Homo sapiens: one gene and its partners. The protein of the gene in region 2 interacts with the protein of the main gene of each other region in a pairwise test. Each region holds a gene or a part of one and is shown on either strand. Other genes may lie near its edges.

What was found.
Region 1: the proteins of PPP1R16A (region 2) and SUV39H1 interact in binary tests that used the Homo sapiens proteins (3 or more experiments, as listed by UniProt).
Region 3: the proteins of PPP1R16A (region 2) and ANTKMT interact in binary tests that used the Homo sapiens proteins (3 or more experiments, as listed by UniProt).

The regions. Positions count from the first base shown.
Region 1 is NC_000023.11:48,699,734-48,706,758, forward strand, and holds part of SUV39H1 (histone-lysine N-methyltransferase SUV39H1), read left to right. Parts: intron 1-357; coding exon 358-1,020; intron 1,021-6,531; coding exon 6,532-6,678; intron 6,679-6,764; coding exon 6,765-6,894; intron 6,895-7,025. UniProt on the Homo sapiens protein: Histone methyltransferase that specifically trimethylates 'Lys-9' of histone H3 using monomethylated H3 'Lys-9' as substrate. Also weakly methylates histone H1 (in vitro).
Region 2 is NC_000008.11:144,480,973-144,487,997, forward strand, and holds part of PPP1R16A (protein phosphatase 1 regulatory subunit 16A), read left to right. Parts: intron 1-7,025. UniProt on the Homo sapiens protein: Inhibits protein phosphatase 1 activity toward phosphorylase, myosin light chain and myosin substrates.
Region 3 is NC_000016.10:717,249-723,115, forward strand, and holds ANTKMT (adenine nucleotide translocase lysine N-methyltransferase), read left to right. Parts: upstream 1-3,897; 5' UTR 3,898-4,026; coding exon 4,027-4,188; intron 4,189-4,349; coding exon 4,350-4,454; intron 4,455-4,552; coding exon 4,553-4,693; intron 4,694-4,835; coding exon 4,836-4,886; intron 4,887-5,060; coding exon 5,061-5,309; 3' UTR 5,310-5,342; downstream 5,343-5,867. Other genes in the region: METRN (meteorin precursor), read left to right, coding at 1-139; CCDC78 (coiled-coil domain-containing protein 78), read right to left, coding at 5,430-5,541, 5,674-5,867.

The DNA.
Region 1 (7,025 bases), on a different chromosome or scaffold from region 2:
GAGGGTGGGTGTCGGAAGTGTGAACAAAAGAGAAGTCAAGGATGACTCCAGGAGTTCCGGTCTGAACAGCTAGAAGGGAGGGAGCTGATGATGGGGAAGACCAAGGAGAGGAGTGGGTTTGGGAGATTAATTAAAAGTTGGAACAGTTTGGACAGACAGTAAGGGGGAGAGGAGGATTTGAACCTAGTAATCCTCACTCTAGAGCCCATGCTTTTTAATCACCGCATGAAGTCATTCCAGAAAAGGGGTGGGGTGGGGTAGGTGTTATCCATCAGCTTTGGGATGGAAGCCCCATGAAGGCTGGCCCAAAGATCTCACTACTTACGGTACCCCCGTCCCCCTACCCACCCCCAACAGGAACAGGAATATTACCTGGTGAAATGGCGTGGATATCCAGACTCAGAGAGCACCTGGGAGCCACGGCAGAATCTCAAGTGTGTGCGTATCCTCAAGCAGTTCCACAAGGACTTAGAAAGGGAGCTGCTCCGGCGGCACCACCGGTCAAAGACCCCCCGGCACCTGGACCCAAGCTTGGCCAACTACCTGGTGCAGAAGGCCAAGCAGAGGCGGGCGCTCCGTCGCTGGGAGCAGGAGCTCAATGCCAAGCGCAGCCATCTGGGACGCATCACTGTAGAGAATGAGGTGGACCTGGACGGCCCTCCGCGGGCCTTCGTGTACATCAATGAGTACCGTGTTGGTGAGGGCATCACCCTCAACCAGGTGGCTGTGGGCTGCGAGTGCCAGGACTGTCTGTGGGCACCCACTGGAGGCTGCTGCCCGGGGGCGTCACTGCACAAGTTTGCCTACAATGACCAGGGCCAGGTGCGGCTTCGAGCCGGGCTGCCCATCTACGAGTGCAACTCCCGCTGCCGCTGCGGCTATGACTGCCCAAATCGTGTGGTACAGAAGGGTATCCGATATGACCTCTGCATCTTCCGCACGGATGATGGGCGTGGCTGGGGCGTCCGCACCCTGGAGAAGATTCGCAAGAACAGCTTCGTCATGGAGTACGTGGGAGAGGTAGGGAGATGGGACCCGGTGTGTGTGTGCAGCTCTTCCCACCCTGTGTTCACAGTGTGCACCCGGCTCTCCTCACTGTGTGTCTGAAACTCCCTGCTTTCCCTATGGGAAAGGCCTGGGAGACTGATCTGAGTGTCACAGGGACATTGGGCAGGGGCTAGTATTCCAAGCTGGTACACACCAGCATGGCCATGCTGGTGGTTACAGGAACACCAAAATACTTCTGCACTGGGTTGACTTTATCAGGGTACTTAGCAAAGAAGAAAAGTGGGAGCTGAGATCCAGGCAGCCTTAGCATTCCTTGTAACAGGCCATGTGGTCTGGCATAGGGCTGCATCAGCTGGAAAGGCACTTCCTCTTCTCATTTCACAAGGGCCCATCTTATCACCAAGCAGTATCTGCCTGAGGAGCATTGTTTTACCAGTCTGCACAGAAGGAACGCAGTCTGGAGTAGGATGAGACATGCCTTGGACAAAGGTTGGCTAACTCCTTTAGACTTTCAGGACACTGGGGAAGGCCGAGTGTATTAGGCAAGCCAGCCATTGTAAAAACAACCCCCTCATCTTAGTGACTTTGCACATTACAAGTTTGCTTGCTCATGGAACAGTCCATTGTGGGGGTTTGAGTGGGTATCCTTTCACACAGCAACTGGGACACCTAGGCTCTTTCCCTCCTGTGCCTTTGCTGTGCCTTGAAGCCTTGGAGTCACTACCAGATCCTCAGCATTGCCTGGCAGGCGGGCCAAGTGGGGGATAGAAGGGGCCCATCCTAGTGGGCCAGGCCTAGATGCAGCACCCATCACTTCTGCCCATGCTCCACTGGCTGGAACTGAGTCACTGGCCTTACCTCCATGCAAGAGAGGCAACAGGATGTGCTTTAGCCATGTGCCCAGCTGCACAAGGCTAAAGCACAGCCATAACTAGCAACTAGATAACTAGCAAGTATCTACAACAGAAAAATGTCGCATTCTAAGATGGGATGCAGTTAGCATTTGGGATGAGATGATTTTTCGTTATGTAGAACTGTCTCATGCATTGGGGGACATTTAGCATCCCTGGACCTTGACCATTTAAATCCATGAGTGTGCCCTGTCATAGTGACAACCCCAGATACCTCTATATATAGCCATAGGTCCCTTAGGGGTGTGATATAGTTGGAAAGTGACAGAAACTGGCCTGAGGAACACTCACATGAGGGTGTCCACACTGTAGCACTGATACTGATGACAAGGAGAGGCTCCTACTCTGAGAAACTGTACAGAGGGTCACATCTGACAGGGACAGAGACAATCTTGGGTAGAACAATCTACACCACAGAGGACCCTGACAGTCTGGGCAAGGAGACAGCCACACCCTGTCCAGATAACCCTGCTGGCCTGCTGGAGGAGATGTCTACATGCCACAGGACCTGGCCATCTGGAAGGAGGAGGTGGGGAGGTGTCCACACCCTGAGGGCTCCTGACAGTGGGCGGGGGAAGGAGTCCTGATAATCTGCAGGAAGTCCATGTCCCACAGTGACCCCAGTGACCTGGAGGAAGAGCTTGTGCTCTCCACACTCTAGAGGACCTGGTGGTCTGACTTAGGAAGTGTTCACACCCATGTTGTCATGACAGGAAAAAGAAGTGTCCTCACCCCAGAGGGATCCGGACAGCCTGGAGATCTAGTCTACACCCAAGGGCACCCTGACAGTATCGGGGGAAGTGTCCATGCCCTCAATGTCCTGACGCTCTGGAGGAAGTGTCCAGAGGTTGAAGGAACCCAAACTCTCTGGAGGAGATGTCCAGACCCCATAGGACCCAGACAGTCCACCGTCCTAGGGGCTGCACAGAGCAGGAAGTATCTCAGCCTCACTGTACTGGCATCTGGAGGAAACACTGTCTACCACACAGGGTCCTGACAGTCGAGGAGGAAGACTACACCCCAAGGGCAGCCTCAGACCCTCCTGGGCCTGAGACTTTTCTGGCTGCTCTTCCTTAGTGTCAGTGTCTTTAATCCTCCCAGGGATCCTCTCAGCCCTGTCCTCACCCTTCCTGCTCTCCACACATTCTTGCTGCACTATTTCCTGACCGCCCTCCAGCACCCTCAGACCCATGGGTCCTCCTGATGGTGCCACAGGCCTCCGGAAAGAGCCAAACTCATCTTCCCGCATTCCCCTCTGAAGAGACAGTATAGCAAATGGTTAGGAGGGTGGACTCTGGATCCTGACTGCCCGAGGCTGAATCCCAGCTCCACTACTCATCAGCAATCACTAACCTCTGTGCCTGCATTTACTATGTAAAATGGGAACAATAATAGCACTCACCTCACAGGCTTGTTACAAAAATTAAATGAGTTACTATGTATCAAGCACTTGGAAAAAGCACTTGAACAGTGTTCAGTACACAGTAAGTTTGATACAAATGTTATCAGCATAGTTCAAACTTCAGCAAATCCAAAATGTCTGGAAGACCAAGTTTTTTTGTAACCCATCTGGCTACAGGACCCAGCCTGACCGGATAGGGTCCTATTTGTAGTTTTTATTTATCCTACTTGGGGTAATAGTCATACATTTCGTTGCAGCAGTTCTAATTTACTTGATTCTGTAGTGCCGTCCCAGATGCTGCCAGGGTGTTACGGAATCAAGGGCCTATCTGCACACCATGCTATCTACTGTCCTTCTTCAGCTGGGACATGTACTGACAGTCTGTACCAAGAGCTCCCTCCACGGGAGCTGCCCTTCCCTCCTTTGCAGCCTCCCACATTGGGTCAGAACTTTCACGTTCCTGCAGAACATTCCCATCCTCACCCAAGAGACAATGCCAGCCTATTTTATCCATTCTAAAACATGCATTTTCTTCCTATTTTAACATCTCGGAAATGAAGATGTCTTAATTAAATCATGGTGTATCATTTATAATTAACAGCAGTTTTTCCTTTCTTGGTAAAGGGCACATAAAATTAAGGGTGTGCCTTACATTTATAACTGGTCCTCATAACCACTCCTAACATTGCTCACTCTCCTATCAGAAACAGGAACACCTTTCACGTCCATGATCTTGTATGGATCTTTACAACAGCCCCTGTCAGGTTGGGATTTTGTCACTGTCATTCCCATTCTGCAGATGAGAAAACTGAGGCCCAGAGAGGTAGAATAACTTGATTAAAATCACAAAAGTAGTACAATGGATAAAAAAATAAAGGCCCAAATAATATCTAAAACTGGTACCCTGCCAGGCTGTAGCTTTTTTTTTTTTTTTTTAGCTGAGGAAACAGGCACAGAGAGAACATTCAGGATCCCATATCCAGGAGGGGGCAGAGCAGCAGCTGACTCCAAGTCTTCTAGTTCCCATTCACGTCAGCACCCTCTCGGAACTGCCAGCTTACAGCCTGTCTTTTCCATTCATTCTGGAGAGCTGTTAGGGAGCAGAGACAGGCCCATCTGTTCCCAAGCTTTCAGGGTTGACCAATCATTAGAGAATGGGACTGAAAAGAAGATGAGAAGGAACCAAGAAGTGTTTGTGCCCTGGAGGGCCTGCAGTATGACTCACTCCTGGTGAGACTGGGAGAGCAGGTAGTGGCAGAATAGGCATGAAGATGGAGACTAGGAAGGATGTGGGCACTCCTCCTGGCTCAAGGAGGGCCTACGGTGAAAAAGATGGCTCATACCCCACCCACTAGGCCTGTGAGCCTGGGAGAGGCTGCCCTTTGATCCCAGGACTTGATCAGACAAGTGGCCAGCTTCTGAGGTAGGGGAGGAACGGGAAGCTTGGAAGGCTGCCTAGAGAGGTCCCATCTGTTTGAGCTGATGCCACAAGGAAGACTGTTCTCCAGGAGGTGAAGGGAGACTGATCTTGACATATTCCACCCTCATGTTGTGGCCCTTAGGAGAGAGTCCCCACTCTTCCACCAGGTGGTAAAGCCCTTTTATGATCTGCAACTCGTTTTAGAGAATCCGTCTCTTCTCCATTCCCCCTCAAGCCCTAAGCACTGTTTCCTGATCACAGTCTTACACTGTGGGTGTGTGAATCTGTCTCTCTGTGACCAGACTTTGACCCCTTGAGGGCAGGGACCAATCCTGGTTCCTGTGTATCCCCTACCCACCTGTGACCCCTGAGAGTGGACCGGGCCTGGTCCCTGTGTCTCCCTGATCAGACCGTGAGCCCTGCATGCTGGGACTGGGCACAAGGAAGGCCTCAATAAAAACCCTGGCAAGGGAGCCAGGTTCCTCAAGGAACAGAACTGGAGCACGGGGCAGTGGGTAGTGTGGCCCGAGGCAGGGTAAATCTTGGTTTCCTCAAGGCATTGTTAGTCAGCCTTTGGCATGGAACACAGCCTTGAGGGGACAGCCAGGGAGAACACCAGTGTGGCCATCCTAGCTAAGGAGATGGATTCCCAAGTCAGAAGGGCATGGTCACCGGCCCACATGAGGGTGAGCAAGGAAGGAAGCCCGAGAGGGGTCTCTGGAGAAGGGAGGGGAAGGAAGAAGTGTGGCGGGGGAGTACTGGAGCTACCTGGAGGGCCGCCACTTGGACAGAGGACAGGCTGCTAAGCCAGGAAGCAGAATCAAAGTAAACAGCAGTCCCCATGTGTCTCCTGTGTGCTGTGCACTGTTCTTGGCTGAGGTACAGTGGGACCCCTACCCAGGGAAGGGCCTGGTCAGCTACGCTTGGGGATTGGCAGGAGGCTGCCGTTGCTGGCCTCAGGGAAGAGGGGCCATGGGGCCGGAGATTTGTTGGCGTGGATTGGGAGGCAAGGACAGGCTGGGGCTAGGATGGCAGCAAAGCTTCCCATTTCCTAGGACAGGTAGGGAACCAGCTGGGGAGGAGGCACCCACTGCCGTCTGAAGCACCAGTTGGCACTGCGCAGCCCTGGGCCGAGGGAGAGCTTCTCTCACTGTGCTCTCCCTTCATCTTTCCTCCTCCTCTGCTGCTGTCTCTGAAGTGTGTGGCCTCAGCCTCTTTCTGGCTCTCTGAACCTGGGCCTCCCTCTGCCTCTGCCTCCACCTCTCTTGTCTTGAGGCCCTTGCCCCCTTTCCCCATGGCCTGGGTCTCTTCTTCCCCTCTCTCCACGCCCTCCCTGCTGGGTCCTGCATGGGCTCAGGCTCCCTTGCCTGGATCAGTAAGTATCTCTCCCTGTGGCACCCTGGGTCACTTTCTTTCTTGCCCTTGCTTTGGTCTCTCCTGATCACCTTCCTGCTCCGTCCCAAGGCACTGGAGGCTCCAGGGGTTCTTGGGCAGCTCTTGCTGGGTGGCGGCAGGAGGTGCTCGCGTGGCCCCAGTTGGGCCCTGCAGCCAGGCCAGCCTGCACTCACCGCCAGGGACTCCTCCTGCTAGCCAGAGGCCTGAGGCGGGCCAGGCAGTTGCCAGCTGAGGCCCAGCTCCTCAGGAAGGGCCGACAGACTCTCTGCGTCACTGCCCATGTGTGTCCACGGGCAGGGGTGCCTCCTGCTCCCTGTCCTTCAGAAGTCAGGAGCAGTGCCGGCTTTCCTGAGACTTCGCGGCCAATCTCCCCTTACCCATGGCCCTTTCCCTAGATCATTACCTCAGAGGAGGCAGAGCGGCGGGGCCAGATCTACGACCGTCAGGGCGCCACCTACCTCTTTGACCTGGACTACGTGGAGGACGTGTACACCGTGGATGCCGCCTACTATGGCAACATCTCCCACTTTGTCAACCACAGTGTGGGTACCCCCGGCAGGCGGGCAAGGGGTCGAGAGGGGCAGGCTGGAGCCCCTCCTCACTCTCCCAACTGTTCTTTCTCGCCCAGTGTGACCCCAACCTGCAGGTGTACAACGTCTTCATAGACAACCTTGACGAGCGGCTGCCCCGCATCGCTTTCTTTGCCACAAGAACCATCCGGGCAGGCGAGGAGCTCACCTTTGATTACAACATGCAAGGTGGGGGTGGCAAGGGACTGGGGGCAGGGGCGCACTGTGACTTGGGACACAAGGACCCCTCCCAAAGGCACACCAGTCACTCAGAGAACCAAGGAAAATTCTTTAGCGGGAGCTTTAAGATGCTCTTCCTG
Region 2 (7,025 bases):
CCGCCTCCTGGGTTCACACCATTCTCCTGCCTCAGCCTCCCAAGTAGCTGGGACTACAGGCGCCCACCACCACGCCCGGCTAATTTTTTGTATTTTTTTAGTAGAGTCGGGGTTTCACCATGTTAGCCAGGATGGTCTCGATCTCCTGACCTCGTGATCCGCCCGCCTCGGCCTCCCAAAGTGCTGGGATTACAGGCGTGACCACCGCGCCCGGCCTGTTTGATGGGTTTTGTGAACAACGTCATAATCCAAATATAAAACATTTCCGTTGCCCCCAAAAGTTCTCTCGTGCTCCTCTGTGGTAAGCCCTTCCTCACACCCAGCCCAGGCAATAGTGATCGCTTTCTATTACTGTAGGTTTGGCGTCCCTTTTTAAGAATTTCACATTGGCTGGGCGTGGGGGCTCACGCCTGTAATCCCAGCACTTTGGGAGGCTGAGGCGGGTGGATCATCTGAGGTTGGGAGTTCGAGACCAGCCTGACCACCATGGAGAAACCCTGTCTCTACTAAAAATACAAAAAGTTAGCCAGGCATGGTGGCGCATGCCTGTAATTCCAGCTACTCGGGAGGCTGAGGTAGGAGAATCCCTTGAACGTGGGAGGCGGAGGTTGCGGTGAGCCGAGATCGCACCATTGCACTCTAGCCTGGGCAAAAAGAGCGAAACTCCATCTCAAAAAATAAAATAATTTCACATCAATGGAATCATATGGAATGAATACTTTTGTGTCTGATTTATTTTGCCAGATGACAATGTTTTAGAGATTCAAGTGGTTTTGTGTATCCGTAGTTGATTCCCTTTTTCTTTTTTCTTTTTTGTTTTTTTGAGACAGAGTCTTGCTCTGTTGCCCAGGCGGGAGTGCAGTGGCACGATCTTGGCTCACCGCATCCTCCGCCTGCCAGGTTCAAGCAATTCTCCTGCCTCAGCCTTCTGAGTAGCTGGGACTACAGGCGCCTGCCACCATGCCCTGCTAATTTTTTGTATTTTTAGTAGAGACAGGGTTTCACCATGCTGGCCAGGCTGGTCTCGAACTCCTGACCTCGTATCCGCCCGCCTTGGCCTCCCAAAGTGCTGGGATTACCAGTGTGAGCCACTGTGCCCGGCTGCCGCCGCCGCCGCCGCCGCCTTTTTTTTTGAGATGGAGTCTTGCCAAGTGCAGTGGTGTCATCTCGGCTCATTGCAGCCTTGGCCTCCCGGGTTCAAGCGATTCTTCTGCCTCAGCCTCCCAAGTAGCTGGGACTGTAGGCATGTACCACCACACCCAGCTAATTTTTGTATTTTTAGTAGAGACGGGGTTTCTCCATGTTGGCCAGACTACCTGAAGTGATCTGCCTGCCTCAGCCTCCCAAAGTGCTGGGATTATAGGCATGAGCCACCGCTCCTGGCCAGTTTATAGTTTTCTTATTTTTTATTTTATTTTTATTTACTTATTTTTGAGATGGAGTCTTGCTCTGTTGCTCAGGCTGGAGTGCAGTGGCACAATCTTGGCTCACTGCAACCTCCACCTCCTGGGTTTAAGCAGTTCTCCCTGCCTCAACCTCCCGGGTTTAAGCAGTTCTCCCTGCCTCAACCTCCCGGGTTTAAGCATTTCTCCCTGCCTCAACCTCCCGGGTTTAAGCAGTTCTCCCTGCCTCAACCTCCCGAGTAGCTGGGACTACAGGCACATGCCAGCATGCCCAGCTAACTTTTTTTTTTTTTTTTTTTGGGACAGTCTCACTCTATCGCCAGGCTAGAGTGCAGTGATCTAGGCTCACTGCAACCTCTGCCTCCTGGGTTCAAGCGATTCTCCTGCCTCAGCCTCCCGAGTAGCTGGGACTACAGGCGCCCGCCACCACGTCCAGCTGATTTTTGTAATTTTAGTAGAGACGGGTTTCACCATGTTGGCCAGGATGGTCTTGAGCTCCTGACCTCATGGTCCACCCGCCTCAGCCTCCCAAAGTGCTGGGATTACAGGCGTGAGCCACCGCGCCCGGCTTATTTTTTTGTATTTTTAGTAGAGACGGGTTTTTGCCATTTTGGCCAGGCTGGTCTTGAACTCCTGACCTCAGGTGATCCGCCCCCCTCAACTCCCAAAGTGCTGGAATTACAGGTGTGAGCCACCGCGCCCGGCCCAACTTTCATTTCTTTTGCGTATGTACCCAGAAGTAGGATATGCCTTCTTTTTTATGTTGTGTGGCTGACAGAGTTACGTTCTGTTCTGTAACGATGTTCACATGTCAGTCTTTCTATCTACAGAACCAGGCAGTGTGTGTAAAGTAGGTTTCCTCATCTGTGGGTCCAGTGTCCCAATTCCTGCCTCCTACAAATGATGTTCTTGGCTGGCTTCAAGTTCAAAGGCTTTCCTCCTGTTTCATGCATCATCAGTCTCCTTCATCACGTGAATTTTTTGAACTTTGTCATCCTATGTGTTGTGTCGTTCTGTTTTCTTTATTTCTTTTTATTTATTCATTTATTTTTGAGACGAAGTCTTGCTCTGTCGCCCAGGCTGGAGTGCAGTGGCACCATCTTGGCTCACTGCAACCTCTGCCTCCTGGATTCAAGTGATTCTCGTGCCTCAGCTTCCTGAGTAGCTGAGACTACAGGTGCATGCCGCCACGACCGGCTTTTGTATTTTTAGTAGAAATGGGGTTTTACCCTGTTGGTCAGGCTGGTCTCGAACTCTTGACCTCAGGTGATCCACCCGCCTTGGCCTCCCAAAGTGCTGGGATTACAGGCATGAGCCACTGCGCCCGGTCTCTTTTTTTTTTTGAGACAGAGTCTTGCTCTGTTGCCCAGGCTGGAGAGCAGTGGTGTGATTAGAGATCACTGCAGCCTCAAACTCCTGGGTTCAAGCAATCCTCCTGCTTTGGCCTCCCATATGTTGGGATTATAGGCGTGAGCCACCATGCCCAGCCCTTCCCTGTTTTCTTTTTCCTTGGCCACCTTCCCCTGCTCATCTCTCTGCTCTGACAGCTCCTACCATCTTTCCTTCCAACTTCTAGGAATGTGCTGGCTGACTGTGAGCTCTCTTTCTTGGAAATGCCTTTCCAGCTCCTGTCCCAGGCTCACAGGCATCTCAGTGGCTTACTGTGTCACCTGCGCCCTAGGTTGGTTGTCTAGACCCCACACCTCTGTTGTCCTAAGGCTGGGGACCCTCACGGTCCCAGTGCTGCCTCCTTCCACACTCCCAGGCCCTGTGCCACTGGCACGTCTGTCCGCAGGTCCCCTTCCCACAGCCCCACCTAGACCGAAAGGTCTGTGTCTCTGTGAGGAAGTGAATACCGAGTCAGAGCAAATCCTGGGTTACAGCGCCGACCCCTCTGAAGCTCACTTTTGTGATTTTGGTTTCCTCACCATTGTACTTGACAGACCTTAGTTGCCACATCTACTCCGTGGGGGTTATGGCCCATTAGAGCTATGAGGCTGAATGAGGCAGTTCATAGGGAAGGCTGCTTGTGGCCCTGGCTTCTAGAAAGGTGTGATTTGCAGGGGCTGCTAGGAGCCCTCCCTGCCCTCTCTTCCCTTTCTTTTGGTCTAGGGCTGGCTTTTATCTTCAGTTCTCGTTGAGTCTCTTTTCAAATGCAGATGCCTCAGGCTGCCAGCTTCTTTCATTTAGGCATCTGGGCCTTTGACACCTTGCTGTGAGTTAGTTTATTCGATTTATTTTGAAGCCAGGTGGCAAGGGGAAAGGAAATTGAAGAGGGAGATGCAACGCTTCCCCTGGTTTCTGGGGAGAGGCTTCCCCAATTCTCCAGCCCCTGACAGACATTGCGTGAGAGCTCATGGTTAGCGGGCCAGTCCCTGGTGTGGTCCACGCGTATCTCCTGTCCCGGGCTGGAAGCATGATGTGTGCAAATGTCCAAATCACGGGGTCTTCCCTCCCTCACAGGGCTTTAGCCAGGCAGCTGTTACTGAGGTAAATAATGATTTGTGTTTGTAGATAAAAAATAGTGGAATAGTTTCAATTTCATATGGTTCTGCTGCTGGGTGTTATGCAGGGGGAATCTGAGGAGCACTGAGATCACTGGGAAAGAGGCCGGGTGCGTGGCTCACGCCTGTCATCCCAGCACTTCGGGAGGCCGAGGCAGAATGAAGAATCTCATGCCAGGGGCCAGAAAGGAGGCTGAGACCAGAGTGTGAGTAGGAGTCAGCCCCCTCAGAGGTGGGACCAGAGAGGAGGCTCCTTAGGAAGCCATAGTGAGGAGGACATGTGGGACAGGCTCAAGGATTGACAAAAGAACCAGTAAAAAAGAATAGAATCTCAAAAAAAAAAAAAAAAAAAAAAAAAAAAGGCCAGGCGCAGTGGCTCATGCCTGTAATTCTAGCACTTTGGGAGGCCAAGGTGGGTGGATCACTTGAGGTCAGGAGTTCAAGAATAGCCTGGCCGACATGGTGAAACCGTGTCTCTACTGAAAATACAAAAAATTAGCCAGGCGTGGTGGCACACACCTGTAATCCCAGCTACCCGGGAGGCTGAGGCAGGAGAATGGCACGAACCCAGGAGGTAGAGCTTGCAGTGAGCTGAGATTGCGCCACTGCACTGCAGCCCGGGCAACAGAGCAACACTCCATCTCGGGAAAAAAAAAAACAATAGATAAAGAAAAATAAATAAAAAAAGAAAAGAGATGGCTCAGAGATCCCTTGTAGACTTCCCGGGTACCCATGTGGTAACGTTGCACCTGTCAATGGAGTACAGCAGTTCAAGGGGATGTTGACACCAATGTGCTCCATTGACCTTATTCAGATTTCACAGCTTTCCATGTGTCTACCTGTGTGTGTGTGGTTTAGTTCTGCGCATCTGTCACTGTAGGGTTTGTGTGAGCCCATGGCCAAGATGCAGCACAGCCACCATAGGGACCTCTTGAGCTGCCCTCTTGCAGCCACAGCCACCTCCCTTTCCCAGCCTGAACCCCTGAGAGCCACTGGTATGTTCTCCATCTGTATGGTTTCACCATTACGAGAATGCTCCATAAATGGAGTGCTGCAGGGTGTGGGCGTTGAGGTCGGCGTGATGTCCTGAGGTCCATCCAGTTGTGTGCACTACTAGTGTGTTCCTTTGACTGGAGGAAACGTCTATGGTATGGATGGACGGACCATCATGTTTCACCTGTTACAAGACATTTGGTTTTTTCCCCCAGTTTTTTGCTATTATGAATAAAGTTGCCATGAACATTTATGTAGTTTTTTGTGTGACTTAATTTTTTTTATTTTTTGAGACAGAGCCTCACACTGTTGCCAGGTTGGAGTGCAGTGGTGTGATCTCGCGCCACCACACCTGGCTAATTTTTGTATTTGTAGTACAGATGGGGTTTTGCCATGTTAGCCAGGCTGGTCTTGAACTCCTGACCTCATGTGATCCCGCCTGCCCCAGCCTCCGAAAGTGCTGGGATTACAGGCGTGAGCCACCACGCCTGACTTAAATTTTCATTTCTCTGGGATAAAGGCCCGTGAGCGCAGCTGCTGGGTGGTTTGGGAGTTGCATGTTGAGCTGTTTTGGTTTAAGAAACTTCCACACTGCTCTCCAGAGTGGTGGCTGTTTTATTTCACAGGTTTTCATCAGCTCCTGTGAGATTCCTTTGTCCTCACATCCTTGCCGTTTGGATTCGTGGGCAGCGGTATCTCGCTGTGGCTCTAATTTGCATTTTACGAATGGCGGGTGATGTTGAGCATCTTGTCACGGACGCATTTGCCATCTGTGTATCCTCTTCAGTGAGGTGTGTCTTTGCATCCTCTGCCCATTTTCTAATTGGATCGTTTCATTTTTACTGCTGATTTTTTGAGACTCGTGTGTTCTTGACAGCAGTCCTTTGTTCTGTGTGTGGTCTGTGGATATTTACTCACTCAGTAGCTGTCTTTTCATCCTCCTCTCAGGGTTTTTAGCAAGGCAAAAGTTTTTAATCTTGTCAAGGTCCAGTTTTTCCGTTTTCCGTTTTATAGACTGTGCTTTTGCTTTTGGTGTCACCACTCTGTAGAAGTGCTATTATTTTACCTTTACGTTAGATTTGCATTTCACCTGGGGTGGGGGTCAAGATTCTTTTCTTTTCTTCTGTTTTTTTGTTTTTTGATTATTTTCTGTCACCCAGTCTGGAGTGCAGTGGTGTGATCTCGGCTCACTGCAACCTCCACCTCCCAGATTCAAGCGATTCTCCTACCTCAGCCTTCAGAGTAGCTGGGACTACAGGTGTGTGGCACCACAACCGGCTAATTTTTTGTATTTCTAGTAGAGACGGGGTTTCACCCTGTTGGTCTCGAACTCCTGATCTCAAGCAATCCTTCCCCCTCAGCCTCCCGAAGTGCTGGGATTACAGGCGTAAGTCACTGCGCCTGGCCCCAGCACCATTTATTGAAGGCTTTTCCACTCCCAGCAGTGTCATAAATTGCATGTCTACACATGTGTAGGTTTATTTCTGTTTTGTTTTGGGGACAAAACAAAACAGTCAGAGACAGAGTCTTTCTCTGTCCCCCAGGCTGGAGTGCAGTGTTGATTTCGGCTCACTGCAACCTCTGCCTCCCAGGCTCAAGTGATCTTCCCACCTCAGCCTCCCAAGTAGCTGGAACTGCAGGGGTGCACCACCATGCCTGGCTAATTTTTTAAATTTTGTAGAGATGAGAGTCTCCCTGTTTTGCCTAGGCTGGCCTTGAATCCCTGGGCTCAAGTGATCCTCCTGCCTCGGCCTCCCAAATTGCTGGGATTGCAGGTGTGAGCTGCCTCATCTGGCAATTTTCTGGACTCAACCGTATTCCATTGGTTTATTTCTCTATGCCTAAGCCAGTAACTTAGGTCTTACTTACCAAACTGTATATAATAAGTCTTGACATCTAATAGTGTAAGTACTTCAAATTTGTTCTCTTTCAGGCTTATCCCTAGTGTTCTTGGCCTTTTGTGTTTCCATATAAGTGGAGCATTAGCTTGTGAGTCTCACACTGTTGGGGTTTTGATTGGGACTACGTCAAATCTTGGATGAATTTGGGGAGAAATGACATCTTTTCAGTTCTGGGTTTTGCAACATATAACGAGATGTCTCCTCCTATATCTTCCCATAAAGAT
Region 3 (5,867 bases), on a different chromosome or scaffold from region 2:
AGGCACCTTCCTCTTCATGGGCTGGAGCCGCTTTGGGGAGGCCCGGCTGGGCTGTGCCCCACGATTCCAGGAGTTCCGCCGTGCCTACGAGGCTGCCCGTGCTGCCCACCTCCACCCCTGCGAGGTGGCGCTGCACTGAGGGGCTGGGTGCTGGGGAGGGGCTGGTAGGAGGGAGGGTGGGCCCACTGCTTTGGAGGTGATGGGACTATCAATAAGAACTCTGTTCACGCAAGCTGCTGTGGACCTGGTCTCCTGTGTCCAGCCCAGCCTTGGGCCTGCCTCGCAGCTGTGAGGATGGCTCCAATTCCTGCCTCCTGGCGGGAGACTGAGGCTCAGGGGAATGGTATCTTGTTCAAGACCATTTGGCAACTGAGAGGGAGAGCAGATGTCAGGAGGAGCTACACCCACATTCCGGGGAGGGGCCGCTGCTGGGTGGGGGGCACGTGGGGACCTGCACTCATGCAAGCTTCTGCTCTGCTGCACCCACCAGCCCCGTCCTTGCCCGCACCCTTGCCTGCTTCCCTGGCTGGCTCCCACTTGCCTCCCGTGCCAGGTGCTTCTGGGGCTCAGCAGGAGAGGAAAGGGGCAGAGGGGCATAGGGTCCCTCGGGTACGGTGGGGGCAGGCGGGCGCACAGCGCTCCGGCTCTGAGCCAGGCCTGTGAGGGAAGGGGCTGCAGGCTGGCAGGGTGCCGACTTCCCCCATGGCTGCTGTGAGCCCGCAGAGTCATCCTTGGCCCCGTCCCGCCCTTGGGGAAGAATGGGCCCCTCTGTCCTCAGGCCCCTTCGACGTGCTGAGCATCCAGACGTGGCGAGGAGCCCGAAGGGTGTGGGGTCCCCTCTGCAGGGTCCTGCTTGTTGCCTGTTTCCGGCGGGCGGGGTGCACAATGGGGTCTCTAAGGACCGTTTCCCGCCACTGGCCCCATTGTCACTGTCTCCGCCTTCCTCCTCGGCCTTTCAGCCGCATAAAGGGCCAGTGAGGTTTGGGACAGCCACAGCCCAAGGCTCCGAGGCTAAAAGCCCCTGGGTGGGGGTGTTCCAGGACACCTGGCCCTGTGTGAGCTGCCTCCTCTCACCCCAACCCCTCGGATCCTGGGAAAGAGACAGCCATGGCTCAAGGGCCAGGGACCCCTGGGCTGAGCCCCAGAAATGGCTTTCCATTCTCGCCTGGGCCGGGGTGGGGGTGGAGGCCAGAGGCCCTGCCCAGGCAGATGAAGCCCCCAGCTTTCAAGGGGGAAACTGAGGCTGTGTGAGGGACACAGCTGTGCAGGGCCCACAAACACGGTCCTTTCTCTAGGTTAGCGGATGCAGATGCCTGATGAGTGCCATGCCCTCTGTGGACACCTGGGGAGGGGGGTCACCTCCAGCGCCGCCCTGGGACTTCCACTGCACGTGCAAGAGACTTACCCTTTCACACAGATCACCTGCCTGCCGCAGGGCTGATGAGGATGGGTGAGGAGCGCAGCCACTGGGTGTCATGCACTGTGGGGGTTCTCCCACCTTCTGCCCCTCCTCAGGTTCCTTGCTGCTTCTCTCCTCTCCCAACTGTGGCACGCTGAGGGCTCAGGCACAGGACCGCTCCTCTGGGGCAGCCTCCAATAACCCTTGGACAACCTCCACTTTTTCATCTTCAGCCCTGACCACTCCCTGGGGCCCATAGCCTTACATCCATCTGCCCCCAGCCCAAACACTTCTGCAAACACTAGAAAAGGAGGTAGCCCGTGTGCCCTCCTGCACCGCCTCCTCCACTCCTGTCTTGGAGAGGCTTTCCCGTGGGCCGAGCAACCCCCTTACCTTTGGCACTTGCCCTGATTCTCTGGCCAGCTTCCTACAACCTCTCCTTTTCAGCCACACCCAAGTCCACCTGTTCACAAACACCCTGGGCTGGGCCCTGGCCGAACCCTGGCTTCTACCTACCTGTCTCAGGAAGTGCCTGAGCCTTGCACCTACAGACCCTCCCAGAGAAAGCCCTGGCTTTGCAACCAGCTGTCTTCTCATGAGACACAGGGCCACAGGAGCACCACGGTGCCCAAATGGGTCTTGGAGCATTAGACCAGGGGCTTCATGCCTGCCCTGGGGACAGGTGGCCAAAGTGGCATGGGAGATAGGGAGACAGTGTGGGTGAGCAGGTGGGCAGGAGCTACAGGAGCCTGGGGCCTGTGGATCACAGACACCGCCAGGCAAGTGCCAGTTCACACAGGTACAGGTGGCTGCAGAGTGCCCAAAGGCCAAGCAGCAGAGTGCCTGGTGTGGACGGGAGAGGAGTGGGGAGGTTGGGCGCAGTGGCTCACGCCTGTAATCCCAACACTTTGGGAGGCCCAGGCAAGCAGATCATGAGGTCAGGAGATGGAGACCATCCTGGCCAACATGGTGAAACCGTCTCTAATAAAACACAAAAAATTAGCCAGACATGGTGGCATGCATCTGTAATCCCAGCTACTCAAAAGGCTGAGGCAGAGGAATCACTTGAACCTGGAAGGCAGAGGTTGCAGTGAGCCAAGACTGCGCCACTGCACTCCAACCTGGGCGAAAGAGCGAGACTCAAGTCTCAAAAAAAAAAAAAAAAAAAAAAAAAAAAAAAAAAGAAGAGTGGAGAGTGCACGCTAGAGTCCAATTAGGTGCATTCATCCAGTAAGCCTCCTAGGTAACTGCTCTAGGTGCAGGGAATAATGCAGGCAGCAGGACAGGAATGGGCGCTGTCAGCTCCCCCTAGAGCTCAGTGTACATACACCCTTCCTTTCCTGGGAGGGCCGTTCCAGGCCCCCAGGAGACAGGACACGCTGAGCTGGGTGGGGCTGGGGCCAACGTGGGCAGGCCTGTGAGACTCTGCACTTGGGAGCTGGGGGCTGTGGTCTGCGGCATACCCATGTCTGGAAGCAGCCTCTGTCCCTGCAGGGGCTCTAGACCCCAGCCACGGATGGCTAAGGAGGAGCTAGGCCAGGGCACGCATAGACAACCCCCGACATTCACGGGTGTTCAGCCCTACCCTGGGTGTGGAGGTCGTGGCCCAGCTGCCTGACCCAGAGCTCGGCTCTTCCACTTGCGCTTCCCACCCCCAGCTTCACAAGGTCACCTCCAGGAACTCAGTCTTTTTGTGTGTTGTTTTCTGGAGAAGGAAGGTGATCTCCCCACTCCCGGGGCTGTCTGCCTTCCCTGTAGCTGGCAGGTGCCAGAGGCCCCCGCCTGTGACATCCGGCTTTCCTCCCACCACACTCGCCTGAGAGCCAGCATCTGTCTTCTTGGGCCTGCTCAAGCTCTCCTCCGTGTCAGCCCCTCCTCCATGCCCTTCTCCCTCAGACCCCACCCCCCATCCCTTCACCGCCCACTGGGGCTCATCGCTCAGGCTGTAGGAGGGAAATGGAAGGATGTCCTCCCGGGCTCTGGCTGGCGCTGGGTGTCCGAGTCAGCGGAGCGCCCCCAGCAGTCTCCCCGAGGCAGAGTCATGGGGGTGCTGGCGCCTGGACGCTGTCTCATCCCGGGGAGCCGCTTTCCCACCGGCTCCCTGGGCTCCAGCCGCCCCACGCGAGCCCCCGGCTGGTTCTGGGGCCAGGACCGCCCCTCTCCAAGGCAGACTTCCCTTCATTCCACGACAAAGACGCGCAGCCCCGTTTCCCTGGGGCTCTAGCCCGTGAGATCGCCGGGTGTATCCCGACTCCCGCCGGCACGTGCGCTCCCCCAGGGCAGGGCCTGCCTGTCCCCTTCCGCGGGTCGCCAGCAGCCAGCACAGGCCGCAAACGGCGGTCCGCAGAGCGGACCAACGGAGCCGACCCTCGCAGGCTTGGAGCCGGACGCGGCGGGGCAGAGCCCCCGAGGCTGCAGCTCGCCGGAACCCGCGGGAGGGCAGCCGGGCTGGGCGGAGCGCACAGCGCCACGGACCGACCGCGCAGGCTCTGCCGGCCACTTCCGGTGTCGCGCGGCGGCTCCCGGCAGGAGGCAGAGGGCACACCGCCAGCCCCAGGCCAGGCTGCGAGGGCCGCGGACCCGAGCCGGGAAGGACCTTGGGCGGACGAGCCGCGCGTCCCGCAGCCATGGAGCAGGACGACCCGGTCGAGGCGCTGACGGAGCTGCGCGAGCGGCGGCTGGGCGCGCTGGAGCTGCTGCAGGCGGCGGCCGGCTCGGGCTTGGCAGCCTACGCGGTGTGGGCGCTGCTGCTCCAGCCCGGCTTCCGGCGCGTGCCGCTGCGGCTGCAGGTGCGGGGCGGGGCCAGGCCGGGCAGGGGAGCTCGGCTGCCGCTCAGGGTCTCAAGGTCTGGGCGTGGCCGGGGTGAGCTCCGCCCCGCCGTGTGGTAGTTCGGGCCGGGCTGCGGGCGGGGCGGGAGCGGCCAGTGGACTCTCGCCGCCACCCGGTCCAGGTGCCCTACGTCGGCGCGAGCGCGCGGCAGGTGGAGCACGTGTTGTCGCTGCTGCGAGGACGCCCCGGAAAAACGGTGGATCTGGGCTCTGGCGACGGCAGGATCGTAAGTGCCTGCGTCTGGGTCTTCGCCGCCCCACACCGCCCACCTGCTGGCGGGCGCCCCTGCCCACATCCTGGTTCCCACACTCTCGGTGCCCACAGGTGCTGGCGGCCCACAGGTGCGGCCTCCGCCCGGCCGTGGGCTACGAGCTGAACCCCTGGCTGGTGGCGCTGGCGCGGCTGCACGCCTGGAGGGCCGGCTGTGCCGGCAGCGTCTGCTATCGCCGCAAGGATCTCTGGAAGGTAACCTGGGGATCCCTGGCCACCCGCTGACAGCCCAAGGTGCGGCTGACACCTGCGAGGGCTGGGGGCCGGGACTCGGAAGCTGCGATGACCCGGTGCCCACCAGGCCTCTCCCCGGCCGGGGCGACTTCTCTTCCGGCAGGTGAGCCTGAGGGACTGCCGCAACGTGTCTGTGTTCCTGGCCCCTAGCGTGGTAGGTGCGGGGTTGCCAGCCCCGCTGGGAAGCCCCAGCCACACCCCAGGGTGTTTGCTGCTCTGAGGCCTGGGCCTGCCTGGTGGGTGCTAGGCTTGGGGCTAGGGGGGTGAGCGCGGCTGTTTTCTACCGGCCCCGCCCCCGCCCCCTCTACTCTGCTGTTCTCTCCCTCAGCTCCCGCTGCTGGAGGACAAGCTGCGGACAGAGCTGCCTGCTGGGGCCCGCGTGGTGTCTGGGCGCTTCCCACTCCCCACCTGGCAGCCTGTGACCGCGGTTGGCGAGGGCCTGGACCGAGTATGGGCTTATGATGTTCCTGAGGGTGGGCAGGCTGGGGAGGCCGCCTCCTCGCGGATACCCATCCAGGCTGCCCCCGGACCTAGTTCTGCCCCCATCCCGGGGGGCCTTATTTCTCAGGCCAGCTGAGTATTAGACACGATAAAGACTCTGTGGGTTCTATCCTGACTCATGTTTTATGGGGGGCTGGGTGGGAGGGTTCTGTGCTGGCTGAGGAGCTCTGCTCTGCTCTGCTCCTTGGGAGACGGCCTAGTGGCTGCCGGTCCTTGGATGCTGGGGCTTGGCTGGAGGCACAGCCCCCACTTTCCAGGGGTCCCCTGCACCTGCCAGCTTCCTCAGCCTCAGGATTTCGTGCTTGTACCTGCTCAGAGGAACCATGCTTAAGTGACTTGCCCAGCTGTGGACAGGTCTGCTTTTAGCGCCTGAGGCAGCCATCATCCTTCATTCCAACCAGACCAGGGCCCTGGGGTCACACCCAGCTCCCTCTGCCCACCTGCCCAGGTGCTGGTCCACGTACTCCTGTAGCTCAGAAAGTTGCTCTTCAGCCATCGTGGCCCGGACCAGCAGCTGTGCCCGCTCCCGTTCCAGCTCTGCCTGGCATGGGGATGTAAGCCATGAGCTGGGGCATGGCGTGAGGATGGGCCTGGGCCAGCCCTTGCCTCCTACCTGGGTGCTGCGGGAGAAGTC